4 separate regions of the Homo sapiens genome follow, and all the other regions are reported to be linked to region 4. Evidence: microRNA targets listed by miRTarBase, many of them from high-throughput screens and not tested one by one. Region 4 holds a microRNA gene; each other region holds the end of a gene's coding sequence.
The links. The annotated mature microRNA hsa-miR-7856-5p reads UUUUAAGGACACUGAGGGAUC and lies in region 4 at 3,141-3,161, shown strand. An mRNA with a match to its seed (bases 2 to 7 or 8) in the 3' UTR can be bound and repressed. Matches are read on the target gene's strand: a 7mer-m8 pairs with bases 2 to 8, a 7mer-A1 pairs with bases 2 to 7 and ends in A, and an 8mer does both.

Region 1: the mRNA of GOLGA3 is a reported target of hsa-miR-7856-5p. Seed matches in the 3' UTR shown: 7mer-A1 at 1,081-1,087.
Region 2: miRTarBase lists NEBL as a target of hsa-miR-7856-5p. Seed matches in the 3' UTR shown: 7mer-m8 at 4,498-4,504.
Region 3: the mRNA of SEC63 is a reported target of hsa-miR-7856-5p. Seed matches in the 3' UTR shown: 7mer-m8 at 3,532-3,538, 7mer-A1 at 3,622-3,628, 7mer-m8 at 5,256-5,262 and 7mer-A1 at 5,390-5,396.

Annotation. Positions count from the first base shown.
Region 1 is chr12:132,769,879-132,773,976 of GRCh38, reverse strand. GOLGA3 (golgin A3) reads left to right here. Exons shown (of 24, transcript NM_001389683.1): 24 at 683-4,098. The coding sequence ends at 872. Among named protein-coding and RNA genes, the nearest start is that of ANKLE2, 10 kb to the right of the region's middle. RefSeq lists an enhancer at 1,976-2,175.
Region 2 is chr10:20,780,924-20,786,995 of GRCh38, forward strand. NEBL (nebulette) reads right to left here. Exons shown (of 28, transcript NM_006393.3): 28 at 1-5,000. The coding sequence ends at 4,824. Among named protein-coding and RNA genes, the nearest start is that of NEBL, 110 kb to the right of the region's middle.
Region 3 is chr6:107,867,347-107,873,418 of GRCh38, reverse strand. SEC63 (SEC63 protein translocation regulator) reads left to right here. Exons shown (of 21, transcript NM_007214.5): 20 at 507-611; 21 at 1,572-5,663. The coding sequence ends at 1,715. Among named protein-coding and RNA genes, the nearest start is that of SCML4, 46 kb to the right of the region's middle.
Region 4 is chr1:86,354,754-86,360,825 of GRCh38, reverse strand. It overlaps MIR7856 (microRNA 7856), which reads left to right and starts at 3,139; the gene lies at 3,139-3,194. It overlaps ODF2L (outer dense fiber of sperm tails 2 like), which reads left to right. Exons shown (of 17, transcript NM_001366781.1): 11 at 290-400; 12 at 1,935-2,039; 13 at 4,224-4,382; 14 at 5,967-6,052.

The DNA.
Region 1 (4,098 bases), not on the chromosome of region 4:
GCCTTTGAGGTTTATATAAAGGGGGAAGGACTCAGCCTCTGAGGTTTATATAAAGGGGGAGGGGGACTCGCACAGCCTCTGTGGTTTATATAAAGGGGGAGGGACTCACAGCCTCTGCGGTTTATATAAAGGGGGAGGGGGACTCGCACAGCCTCTGAGGTTTATATAAAGGGGGAGGGGGACTCACACAGCCTCTGCGGTTTATATAAAGTGGGAGGGGGACTCGCACAGCCTCTGAGGTTTATATAAAGGTGGGGGAACTCGCACACACAGCCTGTGAACTCATAGGTGGAAACTGCCTGGAGTTAAACTACCCTGATAGGCCCTGAGAAGCTGGAAGGCCACACATGGTGCACCTGGCAGCCTGAGGCTGAGCGAAGTGTGTAGGGCGGAGCCAGGCGGCGCCCCGAGGGCAGGTAACGGAGTGGAAGTCGTGTGTGCCAGGCCTCAGTGACAGCTTCCACCCTGCCGCCTGGTCAGGACTGGTCCTTGAGCCTGTGTCCTCTGCACAGTGTAGAGAACGGTGCTGAGAACAGCTGAGCTTCTGTGGTCTCAGTTGGTTTGCGGATCCCCGAAGGCGCCCCGGTCCACTCAGGTGCTAGCGAGTGACGCTGTCCACAGGTGGCGCGTTCTGCCTGGCACTTGTGTGATCTGGGCCTTCTTCCTCCTTCTTCTGTCCCAGGCAGGAGATGGACAGCCTGCAGCGCCAGATGGAGGAGCACGCCCTGACGGTGCACGAGTCTCTGTCCTCGTGGACGCCGCTGGAGCCAGCCACTGCCAGCCCTGTGCCCCCGGGGGGTCACGCCGGCCCACGCGGCGACCCACAGAGACACAGTCAGAGCAGGGCTTCCAAAGAAGGGCCGGGAGAGTGACTGCTGTGGACTCGCCTCCGTGCGCCGCTGCCCCAGAAGGCTCTTATCAATGTTATTTATTTGATTGTGTGGTCGATGTTTTTCTAAGACATGAAATTTAAGTTTTGTTTTGCCTTTAACAAGAAGTAAAATATATAGCAGAATGAGAGCCAAGGACTAGAAAAACATTCGAAGATCACAATTAGCTTTTCACATGGAATGACCAACTCTTAAAAGCCTGATAGGCTCTCGGCGAGGAGCTTTGAACGTGTCTGAAGGGTTACTTGTAGGTCGTGGCTTCTGAGCGGCCACCGATGCTGCTCTCTGCGGGTGACAGGGAGAGGCTGCGTAACTGGGAGCAGCTGTGTGACAGGGTCTGCGGCACCGCGCCTGGCCAGGCCGGCTGCAGTTTCTCACTTCCCTGTTCCATTCAGTAAGAGCTTTACTTTTCCGCAGAAATGAAATTTTATCTGTACCTTTGGCTTTTTACTTGTTTTTTTGGATAGCCATCCCACCATAGGATGTGTACATAGATACTGAATATCATAATCCAATCTTTGTTTTTTTTTTTTTTTTTTTTTTGAGACAGAGTCTCGCTTTGTTGCCCAGGCTGGAGTGCAGTGGCACACTCTCCGCTCACTGCAAGCTCCGCCTCCCAGGTTCATGCGATTCTCCTGCCTCAGCCTCTCGAGTAGCTGGGATTACAGGCGTGCGCCACTATGCCAGGCTAATGTTTGTATTTTTAGTAGCAATGGGGTTTCACCATGTTGGCCAGGATGGTCTCGATCTCCTGACCTCAAGTGATCTGCCCATCTCAGCCTCCCAAAGTGCTGGGATTACAGGCGTGAGCCCCTGCGCCCGGCCTGTCACCCAGTCTTTAAGAAGCATATGCTCATGTTATTGAAGAAGAACCTACTTATTATTGATTGCCTTTTGAAAATTTGTTGGGAATAATTTACCTGCAGGATTTAGGGATAGTCAGAAAATTCTAAGAAATATAATTATTTTATTTACCTTCTAAAGCCAAATATTCTTACACAGAAAGGTCCTCTGTTGTTCTGGTTTTACTTTGTTGCTGAGGATCTTTCCTTCCTGCTGGTCTCTTCCTCTCAGGCCACTGGCCCTGTGTGATTCCACCGTGGCTGGCCACTGGGAAGGGGCAGCTTGGACCCTTGGTCAGGCCTGACGGCCATCAGGAGGCACAAGGACACTGAGGCCCCATATCTGATCTGACCTTTGGGGGGGCACAGGGAGAGGCCGGTGGAGGAGGAGGAGGAGAGCAGACCAGGGGCTCCCTGCAGCGACTCCCGCGGTTTCCCCTGGAGTCAGCCAGGTGTAGGTCGCAGGCGGTAACAAACCTCACACTCCTGTTCCCCAAGTGAAAATCTTTACCATTGTCTGTGGGAGCGCCTGTACTCGTGTGTAGGAGCACCTGTACTTCTGCAGTCATCGAGAAGTCCTGGATCTTTTGTGGTTACACCAGCATCATGTGGCAAGCAGAGGCGACTTCCGGAAGAGACAGGCAGGCACCGTGAGGAAGGTGGCTGTGCTCTCCCAGGTGTCTCAGAGACAGATGCCTTATTTAAAATCAGCACGACATGTGTGAGATCTTCTGTTTCCTACCCCAAATCCTGAAACCCTGCAGACACTGGCTGACTGGGAGAGGTGGGGTCTGTAAGTTGTCCCCTAGTTTGCTAAGAAAATCTAAAATAATATTTATTATATGAGTTAGGAGAGAGAGAATGGGTCCGCGTGGCCTCCTCTGCAGATGTACTGGTCTGAAATGAGGTTCTGAGTCACTGGCCAGGCCAGATGTGCTCATGTCGGTGTCTGGTGTCTGTTTTGTGGAGAAAACAGTATGGTGTGTTTTAAGCTATTTGTGTTCTGTTGTAATATACTTTTAGAAGGTTAATTGGTAAGGTTAAGGTAGCATTAACCACAAAGATGTTTGGTATTTAAAAAATATTCTCTAGCAAATATTGGAATTTCCAAAATATATCATTTGTACAGGGTTAATTTTGAAATAATACTTGAAAATTTCATTATAAATATATCCTACTTTTTATCTTAAGTTGAAGATGTTATTTACTAAATTGTTCTTGTACCATTAGAAAAAAAAATACGGCAATTTACGTTCTTATTTATTTTGGCTGTACTACCCCTTTGTTTTAATTTTAAAATCAAGAAATCGGGCCGGGCGCGGTGGCTCATGCCTGTAATCCCAGCACTTTGGGAGGCCGAGGCGGGTGGATCACCTGAGGTCAAGAGGTCCAGACCATCCTGGCCAACATGGCAAAACCCCGTCTTTACTAAACATACAAAAATTAGCCGGGTGTCGTAGTGCGCACCTATAATCCCAGCTACTTGGGAGGCTGAGGCAGGAGAATCACTTGAACCCAGGAGGCGGAGCTTGCAGTGAGCCGAGATCGCGCCACTGCCCTCCAGCCTGGGCAACAGAGCGAGACTCCGTCTCAAAAATAAATAAATGATTTTAAAAAATCTAAAATCGAGAAATCACACATTCAGTGGGGAGCGACTTCTCCTTGCTTATGGGAAGTCCTCAAGTGAGTGATGTTCACCATGTATTTTTTTTTCTCTTAGGACAGACTAATTCTGAAAATACCGAAGGAAAAGTAGCTCTATGTTCTCACCCCGGTTTTCCTGCGTGTGTGCCCTTGGGTGCGATGCCTCCCCCAGCGCTCTGTGGTCGCCGGTGCCAGGGCCCCCTCTGGTTTGGCAGGGCCTGGCTGCCTTTGCTCCCTGCAGTGAGTCTTTTGGTGTTTTCATGCACGGCTTGTGCTTCTGGATCTGAGGCCTCTCGTGTTCACGCGGACACTTCCTTCCTTAAGAAGACGCCTAAAAGAGGAAGTTGGAATTTTTTTTTTTTTTTTTTGAGACAGAGTCTCGCTCTGTCGCCCAGGCTGGAGTGCAGTGGCGTGATCTCTGCTCACTGCAAGCTCCGCCATCTGGGTTCAAGCGATTCTCCTGCCTCATTCTCCCCAGTAGCTGGGATTACAGGTGCCCGCCACCACACCAGCCTAATTTTTGTATTTTTAGAGGGGTGGAGTTCCACCATGTTGGCCAGGCTGGTCTTGAACTCTTGACCTCAGGTGATCCTGAGCCTCAGCCTCCCAAAGTGCTGGAATTATAGGCGTGAACCACCGCCCCCGGCTGCAGTTGGATTTTTAAATTGCTTTTTTTTATTGTTGAGGTTTTTTTATCTCCAAGGGACTCTCCCGGCACTTCT
Region 2 (6,072 bases), not on the chromosome of region 4:
CTTGAAGGGTTTGTGAGTGACTGTACTATACAATGTGATGCTAGGCTTAATGTGTCATTTCAATGCTGTTGTACATTATGCAGGGGAAATAATGTCTTATTACACATTAACTGCGACATCCACTAAAATGTGAACTAGTTTGCATAGGTTAGTCCTTTGGGCAGCACGATGTTGCTCTAGTCCACCAAGGCTTAAAGATTCACAGTGTAGAGGAAAAAAATATGAATTAAAGCATTTCTACTAAAATATATTTTAATAGCTGGTGTTAACAATTTGCATAACAAAAGCCAAATTATATTAGTAACATTGTAACATTCCGTGAAGCCCCTTCATTTGCAAAACATTCAATGTTTTCTTCAAAACTGTTACACTCTCAAAGTTAGTCTCGCAAATTAATCATCAACCACAATTCTACATATTTTGAAGCAAACAGAAGCCAAACTGTACAATGGTTCAATTTTGATCACAGGTCAAACATCAAGTTTCACACCATGCCTGTAATAGACTTGGTGCTGCTTCCTAAATGCTCAGCAATTCATTGCATGGACACTGGAGAATGGGACTGTGATGCAGTTTTCTCTTTTCCTTTAAAGTACATCATTCTTAACAGCAACTGGATTACAAAGAAGTGATACTATGCAAACTGGATACCATGTATCAAGCACAAAAAATCCTATGGCATTCCCAGGAATATACTGAAGTCATACAGACAACTGAGAAAATTTGCTCAAAGATTCTTCCAAGTTTATGGGTTCAAGTAGTCTAAGCATCACAGAATAATAACCACAGAAGCAACATACAATGCCTTGACTTTTTTGATCAACAGTTGACAGTTAGTTGCGAGGAAAGGGTCCAAAAGGCATGGAATACTTCAGAGACTTTTATTTTAGCATCCTTGTCAGTTTACATAGCTTCTTACTTAACTAAAAGCTCTCCCACCTCCATATCACCTTAACCAAAACAACCACAATCTAGCCACTTTTAGATTATCAGAAGCAAATCGCTAAGGTATAATTAATTTATGAAGTGAAGTTCATCTTGTGTAGTGAATCCAGCCTCACAATTATTCTATCTTACAATAGGCATTTTAAATCCCAAATCTAAAGTTAATGTTTATATAGCTCAACTCTATATAAATCCACAAAGAACCTTTCAGAAATAGATGGAAGAAGTCGGCATTTTCTAAAGTTCTAAATCTTTAGAGATAAAATACAATCAGCTAACACCTTTAATATCTGAGGAGCATCCCACTTCCCTACCACAAAAATATCAATCATGTGTAATAAAATATTACTATAGAATAGGCAGCAACTTGCTTGCTTGGTTTTCTTTCCAAGAGCATACTAGACAAACAAGAGTAATCAAAAAGGCACCTATATTTGTATATATCTGTATTACAGTTTTGGTATATCTTTTATCCACTTTCTATAGGGATGTGTTATTAAAGATCACACACATTTTCTTCATCTTTTATTGAAAACATTCCACTGGAGATGGATGAACCTGAAAACGAGGTACATCCCTTGAACTTCCACTATCTTTTTAGAAAAAGTCTTGTTCCTCATTCCCAGAGTGTTGTCAAGCTCAGCATGGAGAGGATAAGGAAAGACTGTGGCACATTGGAAAAACCAGATCTGCATCTTCTTCAAGAAATAAACCCAGTGGACAGAGAGGGGCTGGTCTAATCTTATCCATATTCCTACAAGGTGCTTGTGGAAACTGTGCTTACAAATGCCTGTGTGGTGTATGGAGGTCGAGGAGACCTGGGATCATCAAGAGCCTCCTCCATGGGCAGTTGATAACCAAATAAATATTTCAAACTGGGCTACACTGCAAGTGTGTAAACAATAACAAGAAGACATGAAGGATTCATTTTGCCATAGGTTAGAAATAGAAAGCTTTCTAGAGAACAAGAATTATTAGTAAAAACATGTACTACAAAAGCTTACAACAAAAGCAATATATTCTGTTGCTATACTTTGCTCAAGAGAGAGAGGATCCCTATACAGCTTTGTTTTCAGAACCTTTTAAAAGTGTATCAAACTGTTCCTTGTGCTTCTGTCAGGCTTGAGAACACATCAAACTTTAGAAAGTCAGGTGCATGCTCTCTGTGCTTGGACATTTACACAGTCATCTTTAACTCAATTTTTAAAATCTTCTTTAGCTGTCAGCTTCATGCACGAGATACCTGTTGCCAAACCAAAGGTGGGAGGGAAGCACGTGGAAAGTGGAAAAGTTGTTCAGGCATGTCATTTTTTTTTAAATGATGCTTTTAAAAATAGCACTTTGGTTTTATACATATAATTTTCCAATATTTCTCCTGAGATGCTTAACATCCTGACAAGCTTTATTAACAACTGCCAACACTACCAAATTATGGCCTCAAGAGCATGCAACATCTTGTTCAGTTTTAGTCTTCATTGTAAAACAACTACCCTTTAGTTAAATTCTGATCAGATCTTAATTCCTAAAGGCTTGAAGCAGAAATATTTTGCTATGCAAACATTATTACGTGAAGCTTAAAATTTTAGGAGACTTATTCCTCAAATATGTATTGACTTTTATGCTCAGTGAATCTGGTTTTGAAATCGGTGGATGAAATTACTTTCCTGATTACAAGCATTATTTCAAGTCAGTTTTCATTGCGGTTCTTATAAATGTGCTATTTATCCAAAATTGTACCTGTCCTATATTTAGTCTGAAAATTTAATCAACAACTACTCTTTCTTATAATCACAAAAGAAAATGGCCTGCCTGGGTGAAATGTAAATATATACTTAGTAAAATAAAATTGAGCAGGTATTTTATCCTCAGTTTTAACGACAGATTTTTTTGCAAAAATATTGCAAGTTCAGTTTATTTTTGTAGGTTTGTGTACAATATACCAAAACAGATATGGGGTTTTATCACTTTAATCACGACTGGCCATTTCAGTGAGAGAAAACCAGCCAAACCCCCTTAAAAGAAGTCTCTAGTTATTTGCCTGCATTTATTTTTTCAACTTTATGTCAGTGACATATAGATGCAGCTTCAGTGTAATAAAGCCTATTTACCCTTTTAGCCTAATAAAATGAAATCACAGATTTTCAAAAGCATGTGCTAACTTTTCTAAAGTGGAAATAAATTAGCTTTGGCCTTTGGACTAGTAAACGTTTCCTTAAACGATGTTTTACAGGATGTTTTGTTAATTTCCTTGAATATAACATATAAGGCAGATATCCCCAAGACCCGTACATCTTAGTACTTTTTTGCAGTTTTGCTTTTTCGGTTTTGTCATAGCTGTGAAGTCAGACCCTAAGTGAATGCCACCCCGTTGCAGGTCACAGTAAACGGCACAATCAGAAAAACACAGGGTTGCCGACGGGTGCCGCTGGCTTGGTGACCTGGACTGCAGACTCTGGATGAAATTTCAAGACCCACCAGCAAGGGCTAGCATAAAGCCTGCAAAGTCACTTATTCGAAAATCAAAACATGGCAACAATTTCTTTCTTAGAGAACAGGCTCTTGGGCCTGTACTAAAAAATCTCTGATGACATTCCTGTTTCATTCCCTTAAAAATGATTTAGAAAATAAAAGCAAAAAAAAATGGAAAAGGACGTCTTTTGATTAACCCGTTTTGGTGGCTAGATTTCCATTCCAGAATTTGAATACCATTTTCCAAAAGAAGATACCAGATCATCTCTGTATGGAATTGGTAACTTTGTTTGCTGAGTATTTTTCCAGTCACACTCCAGCTTCCATTGCTTCACTGGCTTCTGTTACATTTTCTTCACTTTGAAATCAATGGTGGCATTAAGTTAATCAAAGCTGTTCAATGGAACACCTAAATCGCTTATTTACTAGAGTATACATGTTATTTCCTAAGATGTAAATCCTTCAAAACTAGAGTGCGATGCAGCAGGAAAATCTCAAGCATCTTTTCAAAGTATGTTTTTCTGATGAGCTGGCGACTAGAGGAAGAAAGGGCTTTTAGGTATCAGTCACCCTTTTTGCTTCAATAATAGGAACGCGCAGTGCAGCTGCCTATGTTACAGAAGCTTGAATCTACATGACATGCAACAGGGTAAATGCTACTAGGGAAATTATATCAATGACATTATAATTTGCCCTTTGCAGAGTAGCTGTGAAGTTATTTGGTCCTGACATTCTGTGGAACTGAGCATAGACTTGGGTCCATAGAATATAAATGGAGAGTAGGAGATGCCTTGGTACAAATGAGAAATAAATAGATACCAGTCAGCCTAGGGAACAAGGAAATTTCTCTGTTTAGTAGAAGTTTCTAGATCCCTAAGGCCACCAGTCAATATAATTTTAACCAGACTGTCCTTCTGCCACTGTTTACACTTATTATATTGGGCAATTTTCACTAATATTGGAAATTGCCTCATGACTCAAAAGCAAAACGGGTTTGAAATTATTGGCTGCATTACAGAGTTAAGAGAATTGGCTTGGGGTGATTCCAAAGTGACAGCTAAGAAGTTTCAAACACACACTACATTTAAGGGACAATCAACTTCTCTATTAAAGTCTACAAAAATACATTTCCCAGAAGGGTTCAATAGCCAATCAAAGGAAACCATGAACACAATTAGCAGCACCAGGTGTCCAGACACAAAGATTTTTGTTTGTAGGAATTACTGAAAATGCTGCTGTTTTCAGCCCAGAGGTCATTCCTTCTTCCTGGTACCTGTGTGTCTAATTGTCAAAGGAAGGATACATCATTGTAAAATAATGGCCAAGTTGTCTTAAAAGTATCTTCTATCTTTTAAAAAGATTAGGTTTGGGATACATTAGAATAAAGCTCAAAGGGCAGGGAGAAATAATTAATTAACAAACTCAATGTAATTCGCTGGGAGCATTCCTGTTCTCCCTGTTCTCTGCACTGTGCCGTACATCCAGCCATCGTCAATAGGCTGCACGTTGACGATGTAGTCGCCGTCTCTAAAGGAGACCTCGTCTTCATCCTGGGCACTGTAATCGTACATGGCTCGGTAGGTCCTCTGAGAAAGGAAGAAGGGATTATACGATGAATGCCGAAATAGCTACAGCCACAAATTCCAATCACAACACACCGACCCACACATAAAGTAACTATTAGGAATGTTTTCAAACACATGTATCTCTGGAAATCTGTAAACCTAGCATCTCATTGTGCTGATCTCAAGTTTACTAGTCTAGCAAATAGCTTAATATTTTTGGAACAGGGATAGAAAAGTCACTAAATACGACAGGTAGCCCATCAAAAAGTAGGCTTTGAAATAATAAAGCCAAGTTCCCCCCAACTTCAGATAACCCCAGAAACCTTAGATAATATGTGATTTCATATTCTTCAGAGAACAAAACTCGTCATATGTCAGAGAAGTTCAAATCTCTCCTGGCAATGTACTTTTCTTAAGTTGATGCTAAAAATGTTCATTTCCTCTTAAAACTATGTAAAACAAATGAAAGAAAAAACTCATAACATACTCACTATATAGGTTTCTGTATCACTATGAGAGAAATTTAGCATATAAGTGTCCTGAATGTTAAGATACATACTCAATTGTACTTATTATATTATGATTATAATGAGTTTTCCTATATTTGTTTTTGTTTAAGGCTAAGCATTTAGCTAACATTAACATCAGACAATCTCAAAATCAAGTACATTCACAGACTGAGGACATGGCTGGGACCCAAAGAATTTTAGAGCAATTCAAGTTACCGGACAGTGTAGAAGAGTTTTCTAGGTGTTGAGGCAAAGACCAAGAGACTATGTTGAGGGCTTGTAGAAGAAATTTCTGCATGAGAAGCCAAGTATAACTAGCAAATGTTGAACACTTCTTCCAAGTTTTACACTGAATATATGAACCAGTTCTTCAAGATTTCCAATGGGGGATTTGAAGATATATTTTGGCCACATAATTTAGGCTTTTGTGTTCATTTTGATTAAGATGAACTTGTAAATACAACCATCAAATATCCATGCTCCTAAGGCATGAGTAAAGAGCATAATCGGCTAGTACCAATCATGAAGTAACAATTAGGATACTGTACTGGTAGATTCTTTGTATGTTTTATTGTTTTATGTAA
Region 3 (6,072 bases), not on the chromosome of region 4:
GTGGAATAGAAACTTTTTAAGAGTTTGTTACTATTTGTATTTGAAGTTTATGATTTGATGATAAATAAAATATCTTCTTGACCTTTGGCATTGGGCGTTTATTCTAGAAATAAGAAAATTTGGCAGGAAGTATCTCCTATCTAGTGAAGTCTGTTGTTTTATTCCAACATTTCATTTACTTATGCTTTTATACCTGCTTAATTTCTTCAAGATGATAGCATAGAATTTGGTTGCTTTAAGTACTGCTTTCTTGAATTGTGGAGAGACAAATTAACCTCATCAGTTCTGCATAATTTGATTTCCTCTTTGGGAGGTATTTATAATATGTAACATACATTTCGCTTTTTTTTATTATTGTTTATAAGGACTTTAGTAACATTTATTAGGACTTTCTGTATCATCTGCAGAAAAAACCTGGCTGTTAAATACTGTGGTCTAGGAATTTTAGGGAGTGAGCTGTTTCCTCCCCATAATACAGATTTTTAAGTGCTGATTTTATCTTCTAGGTAGAGCTGAAGTTTCCTGCACCAGGCAAGCCTGGAAATTATCAGTATACTGTGTTTCTGAGATCAGACTCCTATATGGGTTTGGATCAGATTAAACCATTGAAGGTAAGAATAGTGACTCTTCAATAAATAAGAGTTTTCTGTATAAATGTTTAATATACTAGGAAAACATTTCTAGTTTTGAAATGTAGAGTTATGGAAGGAAAAAGAAGTCATCTCATGCTTTATATATGATATACTTGATGGACTACTCTTTCAATAATAAACTTAAGGTTTTAGGTTTTTAAGGAGTGTAACAGTTTAGAACATTGAATATAAATTACTTTAGGGATGCATTTTAATGTGCTGTAACTTTATAAGGCCTCAGCAAATGGGTTCTTTTTTCTTTAGAAAGGCACTTTTTTTTTTTAAACCACAGATTCTATTTGGAGTGTATATTAATTTCTGAAACTAATTTATTTTTGTCATCTTAGAGCATACACTTCTGTAAGTATCATTTGCAGCACACTCTGATCTTTGTTTACCAATTCACTTGAGCTTTTTATAAAAGGTGTCCTATTGTATTAGAGAGATGGTGCTAAAAGTATTATTGCATTATAAAGGGTAAAAGTAGCCAGTAAATGCGAACCTCTTTTTTGTTCCATGAGGGTTCCATATTTCTTTTATTAACTGTAGAATTTTACATCACAAGTCTAGAGACTGCAAAATGTCTCGGGTTTTTCTTCCTTAAAGCAGAAGGCTTCTGTTAAGATATGACTCAGTGTTCTTGCTCAAGAATCACAATTATTTTATGCCATAGAAATACATTCATAAATAGTATAACATACAGAATCAAAATATCAAACTGTATTAGAAATTTAACTACATTTACATATTGTTAAATTTACTTGTTTTATTTCTGGGATGAAGTGTCTGTTCTAAATGAATGAGTTGAATTTAGAATTGTGTCCATAAAAAACTATTTCTTTGTAATTGCTGTGGTCAAAGAAAACCTTTTGTTTACCAAGATTTCTTCCATTATTTCTCCCCAAATTTCTGATGTCTACATTTAATTCTTCTTTCTAGTTGGAAGTTCATGAGGCTAAGCCTGTGCCAGAAAATCACCCACAGTGGGATACAGCAATAGAGGGGGATGAAGACCAGGAGGACAGTGAGGGCTTTGAAGATAGCTTTGAGGAAGAAGAGGAGGAAGAAGAAGATGATGACTAAGCAGTACTCTGAATGGACCACAGTGTTTGCACATATTTGCAATTTTTTGCTGTTTTGGAAGTGTATCATAAACCAGAAACAGTACAGAACTGATGTTGAGGGAGGTGTAGTTTTTTTACTCTTGAAATGGGTGCATAATATAACTAGGCAGTGGCGGTGCCTTGGTACAACCTGAAAAATGTTAAGGCTTATTGAAACCTTTCAAGTAGGGGATGGTACATTTATTTCATCTGCAAATGATAATAAATCCTTTGTTATTATAACTGTCCAGAAGTGTGGGCTATGTATTATCTGATCAGTCTATGGTCCCAGTAAAAGTAAAGATGCAGGAAACACAGTCTGTAAATGAGCGACTTTTCTTTGTTCAGCTTTAGTTTTAGCAAACACCACAAATATGTTTTAAGTAACATCGCTCAAGTTTAAGTAACATCGCTCAAGTTGATAATCTCTTGATAAGCTCTGTTGTTGACATTTTGCAGTGATACAACAGCTCCACTCATAGATTTAAACTTTTATTTTTACTTATCTTGGTCATAAGTTGGCATTCTCTCACATTCCACATGATATAGAGGGCTACGTTTTGGAATTTTCCTTTTCTTAATTGCCCAGAGTTATCAGACAGATTATAAAAATGGCTTTTAATGGCTTAAACCATTTCTAAACCTCTATCTTAGCAGATCAATGCAGGATCTAATTCTTTTGATAAGTTCTAGCTCTAAAAGTGATAGTGGGACTGTATGTTTTCTGATACTGGTGGCTTATGTTATTAAACCTTTTTTAAAAAAGGTTCACTCTAAAAGCTGAACTACATCCTTAGTTTTCAGTCTACTTGACTCTATCAGGAGCTTTTTAAGGAAAGTAAGTATAACATGCAAAGGAAGCTTTTTTTGTATTCATTTTGGACTCCTGTCAATAAAAATAGAAGTTTGTTGACTCGTTTTATGTTTCAATGGTGTGTGTCTTTTTACTATCAGGACATAAATAGGGCAATCCACTTCTTTATTTTTCAACTAAAGATTGAATAGTATTGTACATTACTGCTAAAGTGACTGCTATTTCTGTATACTGTAGAAAAACCCAGGAGTGAGAGGGATTTCCCCTCATAGTACAACTGGAAGGATAGTGCTTGTAAAGAGTAGAGATGTGTACATGATGAATCATTGAGGGAGGGTGGATATTTTTATTCCTAGATATGGAGGAAACATAAGTCTGTAGTATTATAAAACTGATTGTAATAATTCTTTCCTATCAAAATCTCCATAGGTCAAAATATTGTTGGAATACTAAAATTTGCAACCTTGTTTACTTTAAAAGGTTGCCACTTTCAGTGCAGAATACTACCGGCATCTTGTTACTGCAATAGTTGGAAATAAAATGTGAAAATTAGCAAAACCATGAATGGTTTTTTTGGTTCTAAATTTAAGATGTAATATTTCCTATAAAAGGGTGAAAGCAGTTTCTTTCTCTATAACCTCAATCACCAGTTTAGTGAGAGCCTTTCTTGGCAGGCAGGAGGCAGTGTCACTGAGGATTTTTTTCATTTACTTCATTGTACAAGTAGGAGGGTGGGTTTAATTTTCAAATCAGGTTCTGCTGTGAAGCACCAGTGTCTTGAGGCAGCTACTGATTACCTAAGTGTGGTGGCAGGGGGTAAGCCAGCTGGTGTCAAGTGAAAGGAGGGATTAGAGAAAACAGGTGTGGCACGAAGGCAAGGAAACTGAGCAGACAAGACAGAACAATGTGTAGAATGCATATTTCCTAGTTTTCTTGAAAGATTTCAAGAAAAGTTGTTTTTTTTTTTCTAGTGGCTACTTTGCCTTAAAGAGGCTTTATAAGTTCATTCACACAGCTGGCTTCTCTGGTTTTAAGATTCTGGAGAGGATGATAACCTAGTAACACCACAGTGCTTAAAAAAAAAAAAAAAAAAAAAACTACCATCACCAGAAAATTCCACCAGTTTGTTTTCCTTTTCTCTTTGTGTGATGTGTATGTACTTCCCAACTAAGTAAAATAAAATTTCCTCTAGTGAGTGCTTTAGGTAACCTCTTTCCATATGGCAGTAGTGAAAGAACTGAGCCTTCAGTTGATAGTTCTTCTCTCTCCAGCAAGTCGCTAAACTCCACATCCCTTCGTTTTTCCTCTGGAATGAGAATAACAAACTATCCTAGTTTGCATTTAATCTAATGGAAACTTGAGCAAAGTTTCAATTTTCTTCCTATAAAGAAACTGACATTTTGTCAACAATTGATGAGCCTATAGATCATACAGTGTATAGGAAGTGAAATTGAAACAGTTAAATTATGTGATATTTTTCTCTAATTGGTAAAGTACCTATTAAAATACAGCTGTTCATGAGGAGACTTACCACAATTCAAAGTGTAGCAGTTGTGTATTTTAGCATTATAATATTTGATTGAGGCCCTGAGGTGTTAATATCTCAATCTCAGAGTTAGATGTTCATGTCCTTTTTGAATTTTTTAAACATTTTTCATAATTTTTTTTTTAAGTTAGGGAGCACATTGAGTGAAGTTCTCTGTGTAGAACAATACCTTCTGCTCTGCTTCTCCCAGCTTTCACTGAGGGCTGGAAAAGGACAGGCCTGTCCAGCTGTACTGTCCCACTGTGTATGGGGAAGCTCAGGCTCTGGTGGAAGCAGGGGGCGTGGATGTCAAACAACTGATGTGGAAACAGGGAGGGAGAGATATAATGAGGCTCTCTAGGCATGTTATTTTTGACCACAAGTTTTGTTCAGTTTGCTTCAGCCAATCCAAACCATATACTAGAGTGTTCTGTAGTCACAATTCTTATTTCAAATGTAATTCAGCACCTTACATAATTTTTGAGAGGTTGTCATTCATCACATATTTACTGAGTTTCTATGTGCCAGGCTCTGTGACTGGATACTGGAGCTATCAAAATGAAAAAAATAGTGTTAAGAACTCACTCGCTGGTGTTAGAGCAGGTAGATGAGTGGCAATCCATTTAAATCCATTTGCCTTGGCTATTATTTGGAATGCCTTTTTTTTTTTTTAGTCTATCTACTGTAGGCAGAAGAATTATTTCTTTAGGGGCTAGCTGTTTATTTTGCTGGCCTTTTTTTCTCTCTTTCTCTTTTTCTTCTTAAGACGGAGTCTCGCTCTGTCCTCCAGGCTGGAGGAGTGCAGTGGCACGATCTCAGCTCACTGCAACCTCCGCCTCCCAGCTTCAAGCGATTCTTCTGCCTCAGCCTCCTGAGTAGCTGGGACTGCAGGTGCATGCCACCACACCCAGCTAATTTTTTAATTTTTAGTAGAGATGGGATTTTGCCACGTTGTCCAGCCTGGTCTCGAACTCCTGGCCTCAAGTGATCAGCCCTCCTCAGCCTCCCAAAGTGCTGGCATTACAGGCATGAGCCACTGCGCCCAGCCTGTTGGGTTTTTTTGGAAAAAAAACAAAAACAACAAATCATCATCCTTTCCTTTAAAATGTTTTTTTTTTTTTAAGAAACAATTTTCCCACAAACGGTCTGATTTAACTCCATGAAATCCTCTATTTAGACTGCCTTAAAGTGAAATAACTGTTGGTGAACCATAACATTTTGCCAGCTGTGTAGTGATTAGTCCAAATATGTCTCAAGAAGTTAGCACCAAGCATTCTCATCCATTTAAACTTGATGCTAGGGCTATTTTGCAAAACTTAAAAAGATGCGATCTTGTACATATTTCTGTAACCTGAGCTGAAAACCCAAATAACAATCATTGACATACTTTAGGGCTATTGTTTCAGGTGGGGGTGTATACATCCCAGGGGCGTGGAGATGATCAATCCATTGAGGAAGTATTAAGATGATTATTTGTATTTAATCTCATCCTTTTAAATTTCTATTTTTGTGTGTTTTATAATGTACATAATATATTGTACAATTGTACACTTCTATTATTTATAAATAAACATTTATTGGTGCATTAATTTTTTTTTTTCTGATTTGGGTCCATGATCAAAACATTTGGGCACCACTGCTTTGTGGTATTGATAGGGTGACATTTGACACTCACCACCTGAGATCACAGAGTGATATACTCTGGAGTTGGTGGGTTGGCATTCACTGTGTGCAGCCCTACTGTAGCTGCCAAGAGCAAAGTGAGACTTTTATGAGATAGAGCTGAGTAGGTCTGGAGGTGGGATTGATAGGCAAGGGGAGGGTTCTGCACAACGGTTGTCTGTGGAGTGCAGGTGGTGCAGGTATGGAGCAGCAGTGCTGGGGACGACTTGCTGGGACTTTGAGCAAATCACAGCCTGTTGCTGGTCCTGGCAATCAGTGACTGCTGCAAATGGAAGGTGAGTGTGGGAAGGACTGGCCACTCTGTTCAGCACGAGG
Region 4 (6,072 bases):
CTCTGTATTCTATTGATTTTTCATATCTAGGCACATTTCCAAGTTTTTTTGTCAGTAAATTTAGAAAGTTTTAAAAATAATATGTCCTGTGTAAATCTTAATAAGGATGTTCATAATTATTAGTCACTAGCTTTGTGAAATTCCTAAATTTTAGATGGTATTGCATGAAATAAAAAATAATTATTTTATCAACTTTGTTAATACATGAGTTATGTTTTTATAATAATTCTGTAGCACTGGAGTATAAATGTATTCTAATGACTTATAAAATCTATATCTTTTTTGCTAGACTACACTTGCTGCTTTGAAGGATGAAGTTGTATCTGTTGAAAATGAACTCTCAGAATTGCAAGAAGTAGAAAAAAAACAGAAAACCCTTATTGAAATGTATAAAACTCAGGTGACTACTGCATTTATTTTAGTGTTTACTAAAATTGGTAGACAATTTAAAACACTATTTCTTTGTAATCTAAATAAATAGAACTGAAGAGAGGTGGGGCTATCATTGTGGGTTATAATATGGTGTGTCTCAAATATTTCTTAAGGTCCCACACATCTTTATAAATAGATGATTCTGCTGATTCCTGATTCAAACACTGCATATGGATATACTGGATATTCCTAAAAGTAGATTTAAAATGAATTACATCGGTATAATGTGACCCTTAATGTATTCTTGTTAATCTTGGTTATATTTGTTTGTCATCATGTGTATTTAATGGTATTGATTTAGATTAATGACTCCCTTCTAGGGTCATTAAAGTTCATTATGCCTCCTTTCTCAAGAAATAAAGTATAATTCAGATTATTCACATGAAAGACCAAGAAAAGAACATATGACAATATATATGAAATAGACCATGTGTTCAATGGTAATTTATAGAAAACCTTTATTTTTTTGGAAATGTAGTATTCAAGAAAAAACTTCATAAGATGGGACTTATGCAGGTCCTTGCATGATGGTTAACACACTGGTCAGAGAGAGTTTGAATTAAAGAATAATGAACTGGCTGGGTGTAGTGGCGTACACCTGTAATCCACTGGGAGGCTGAGGTGGGCGGATCATTTGAAGTCAGGAGTTCGAGACTAGCCTGGCCACCATGGTGAAACCCTGTCTCTACTAAAAATACAAAAATTAGCCAGGTGTGGTGACATGCACCTGTAGTCTCAGCTATTCAGGAGGCTGAGGCAGGAGAATTGCTTGAATCCAGGAGGTGGAGGTTGCAGTGAGCCGAGACTGCACCAATGTGCTCCCAGCCTGGGCAACAGAGCAAGACTCCATCTCAAAAAAAAAAAAAAAAAAAAAGAATGAACTAAGGATGAAAGCTTAAGGGGGCCAAAGTGTGGGCAAGTAGGAAGGGGCTGCATCTCGATGGATTAGATGGGAAAATTAAGTTGAGACATCCAGTTAGAATATTTCAGTCATCCAGGTCTGAGGTAGGAATGGAGGTTGTGGTGGACTGTGGGACTTGTTATTCATCAGGGTCTTCCAGCTGGTTATTTGGGTTTAATCCCTCAGCAGGAATACTGTGGTTGAGTGACCATATTCTGGGTGCAGGGCCTAGAATTTTTTTTTTTTTTTTTAGCAGATTTTGATTTGGTGGGAAAAATAATTTAAATGGAAGCTAGTTTGGACCAGAGACTGATTCTTTGAAGTGACATTGATCTGCAAATGAAAATCTTTGTAGTCTTCAAAGCTCAAGTGGAGAGTTTAGAAGTATTGATGAGAGAAGACAGGTAAATCAGACAAAGATTGTGGGTTAGAGTAGAGCACTGAGTGATTCCATATTTAAAGAAGTAATAACATTAGATGAACCAGTCAAGGATATTGATAGGAAAATAATGACTTGTTTAAAATGAAATTTTAAATTTTAGATTTTTATCTCATGTTATGATTCTAAAAATAATATGTTTCTCTAATACTTTATTTTCAGGTACAAAAGTTGCAAGAAGCAGCTGAAATAGTAAAAAGCAGATGTGAAAATTTGCTACATAAAAATAACCAAATAACAAAAACCAAAAATAAAAATGTAGAGAAGGTACGTTTGGAATTTCAAATAAATAATATTTTATATATTTTTTACTTTATGAATAGTACACAAATTCATTCATTTTGGTCATTTTCTCTAGTTCATACTTAGGAAAGGGCTAGTCTTAGCCTCTGTAAGAGTTTGTTTTCCAAGGAAATAATGTTTCTTCCAGGCTGGAAATGTTGTTTGTTTATGTGAATGTTTTTTCACTTTTTTGTTAATATTTGGAAAATAGCATAAATGTTTAATTTTTCTGATGCAAGAGCAGACTTTAAATAGCTCAAAAAATGGTTATCAATCATAAGTATACAAACCTAAGTATCTCTCATTTTTAATCTCACCCTTTTTTTCTGGTTATAAATGTTTTACGTCTACAAAAGCAAAGCCAATATCTGCTAAATGCATTTTTGAAGAAAAATAATATCTTTTAAAAAACGATCATTTCCTTTTATTTGTTCTATTGCAACAGAATGAAGGGAAGGCCAGTGTTGGCGAGTTATGATGTTTTTGTGAATATTTTAAAATTTTTAAATGAAACCGCATCTCTGTTTGGTTTTTTGTGTTGTTTTGGTAAAGAAGCAGTGAAAGTTGTAGGATGCTGACTCCTGGCAGCAGAGGTCATGCGATGTTAGTGGTCGCTTCCATCTGAATCTAATAAGGTTACTCTCTCTGGGTTGCTCCCTATCTTAGGATTGAGAAGTCAGAGCAAGGCAATAATGTGAAGAAGAGGTCAGCCAGAGCAAGCGTCCTCCAGTTATACAGACATAAAGATAGCTCACTGAATGCACAACTTACTGCTTTCATGGAATTACTTTTCACCTATTTTTAGCAGGCCAGCGAATAAACCATTTCATGTCTTTTGGTCTCATTTTCTCATGAAACATACCAGTGCAAATGTCTCCTTTTCTGCTAGGCAGCACTGTAAATAAAAGCATATTTTACAATCCTGTTCAAATGACGGAAAGGGTTGGAGCCTGTCTTTTTCAGATACTGTGAGGTCACAATGTTTTCTAACTAGTATTTAACAAGACAACTATTTTTTTAATGAAATTTTTCTTTTTCTTACTTCACTGTTTTAAGTCTCCTGGTTTTCTCATGGCCTCTAAGATGTTTTAAGGACACTGAGGGATCCTTTGTTCTGGATCCCTCAGTGTCCTTAAAACAGACATTTTTCAGTCTGTTTTTTTTTTTTCCTGTTTTACTTTATATACCATCAGAATATGGATCATGTGTATCCTGTTAGTAGCCACATAGCCTTCTCCTAGCTCAATGCCTAGCACGTAGTAAGCACTCAATATTTTTTTAATTAATGAAATTTTTTTTAAAGGAGCAGTCCAAGGATGGCGACAAGTCTTTTTTCTTTTACTTTCAAGACAGTTTTAGGAAGCATTCCCTGTCTGTCTTCCAAATATAATCTGGATTTTAATTTTGCAAAAAAAAAAAAATACTGCATTATCTTTCCTGATCAAGAATGCCAGATACTACACAGAAACTATTAGGTGTTCCTGTCTCAGGGAAAGAGTCTGGCTATTTTTTGTAATTAGCAGTGCAAACATTTCTTAAGGTTGCTGCTTTTCACATCTCCACGAAAGTGCTGCAGCGAGGAACTGCAGTAGCCAAAACAGATTAATGTAGATGAAATTAGAGAGATTTGTTGATAGTAACATTAATGGCCAAATTAAAGGCAAGTGAGAACTGATGATACTAGCAATTTTTAAATAATATACAGTAAACCCTATCAGTTTTGGCTAAGATGAGTGAAGCAAGCTGCTCTAATTTAAGTAAGTATCTGAGTTATAAGATTGAATGACTAAAAGTGACAATTCCTTTAGAACCTATAGCTGGGCAGTAGACAATTACGGCTTTATTAGTAATGGTTATTAGTGATAATCTATGCTTGAATATAATGTCAGGATTTTAAAAATTTGCTCTTAAAAATTAGTTAAACATCCACCCTGTCAGCTAATTTACCCTATTTATGTGCTCAACAAACTTTTTGAAAACTAAAGTCTACCCCACTTTTTAGTTATACATTCTTATTTAACAGAGTTTAATATTTATTCAGTTGTGTTCTTATTTAAAGCCATTATACCTAAAATACTTACGTTATAAGCATATCTAGTATTTAAGATAATAAAAATATTAATGCTGAATGTGTGATCTTGCACTTATTTCCCTACTGCCACAACTCAGATGAGAGGCCAGATGGAGTCTCATCTGAAGGAGTTAGAGCGTGTCTGCGATTCCTTGACGGCGGCGGAACGGAGGCTTCACGAGTGTCAGGAGAGTCTGCAGTGCTGCAAGGGGAAGTGTGCAGACCAGGAACACACCATTAGGGAGCTTCAGGGCCAGGTGTCCAGCCGTCCTTCTGAGTTTTGCTAGATGCGTTAAAAGAATGCTTTGGAATGATTTCACCAGTTGAGGGCACTCATGTCAGGGCTTGATTTTTAAATTCCCATCTACTTAGTTCGTAAAACATCATTTTCATGCAGATACTATAATACAGTTTTGCAAGCTATTCTTTTAGTATTTTATGGTGAAAAATTGGTAATTAAAATTCTTATTTTAGTTTATTCATGCAAATCTATAGACATTTGAAGACATGGTAATAGAATGAGAGAAGGAGCAAAGTTATACTTACATATATGTTCCTTGATGTAAGGATAAGGTAAATTATTGAAACTTACATTACAAAAATTGAATTTATTTTAATTAGAATTGTACGTCAAGTTTTTTGGGATATTTTTCAGTCTGTTTCTTTTTCCTGTTTTACTTTTTATACCATCAGAATATGGATCATGTGTATCCTGTTAGTAGCCACATAGCCTTCTCCTAGCTCAATGCCTAGCACATAGTAAGCACTCAATATTTTTTTAATTAATGAAATTTTTTTTAAAGGAGCAGTCCAAAGATGGTGACAAGTCTTTTTTCTTTTACTTTCAAGGCAGTTTTAGGAAGCATTCCCTGTCTATCTTCCAAATATGATCTGGATTTTAATTTTGCAAAAAAAAATACTGCATTTTCTCACTTAAAAAGTAGGAGCTAAATGATGAGAACACGTGGACACATGGAGAAGAACAACACACAGTGGGGCCTTTCAGAGGGTGGAGAGTGGGAAGAGGGAGAGGATCAGAAAAAATAACTAACAGGTACTAGGCTTAATACTTGATTGATGAAATAATCTGTACAACAAACCCCCATGACACAAGCTGACCTGTGTAACAAACCTGCATTTGTACCCCTGAACTTAAAAGTTAGATAAAAATATGCAGACAAAATTTTAGTTTAAATTCCTGAGAAGAGATTTTTCTAGTAAAATGTCAAACGACATAGATTAGCCTAAATTACTAATTGAAATTATGAGAAAAAAATTTTTTCCTTGAATCAAAGCTTCTTACATTATTTAGAGCAGATTTTGAAGCAGTGGGAAGAATATTCTGTCTTGGCATGGGTGAGTGTGTCTTTGGTTGATTTGTTCACTTTGCTTCTCAAAAAAATATGTATTTTATTTACAGTTTCGACTTCACAGATACTCAATTATTAATCAGTATTTTTAGGTGAAACAGAAAACCATAAGAGAAACCCTAGGTATCCAAAAATAGGAGATTAATACTGCTTAAAATTTTCCTATTTCAACTTAACAAAATAAATATCTTTCTTCAATAAGGTGTTGTTCAAAGTGTTTTAATAGCCATCATCCTGAATTTTTTTTAGTTGGTTATTTTCCAATACAGGCAACATAACTTCTTTAAATTTAACCAGGAATTTAAAACTTCCATTTTAACAATATAACATTTTCTTGGTGTCTTTCTGTGTAAGAGTAGTAACATTTATACCTTCTCGTTGCTTGTGGTTGTTCTAACAATAAATTATATGGATTTCTTTGGAAGTTGATTGTGAAGAAAATGACTAAGAAAACTTTTTTTTTTCTTTTAGGTTGATGGAAATCACAATCTTCTGACAAAGCTTTCTCTGGAAGAGGAAAACTGTCTTATTCAGCTGAAGTGTGAAAACCTTCAACAGTAAGTATTAAATTACTTAA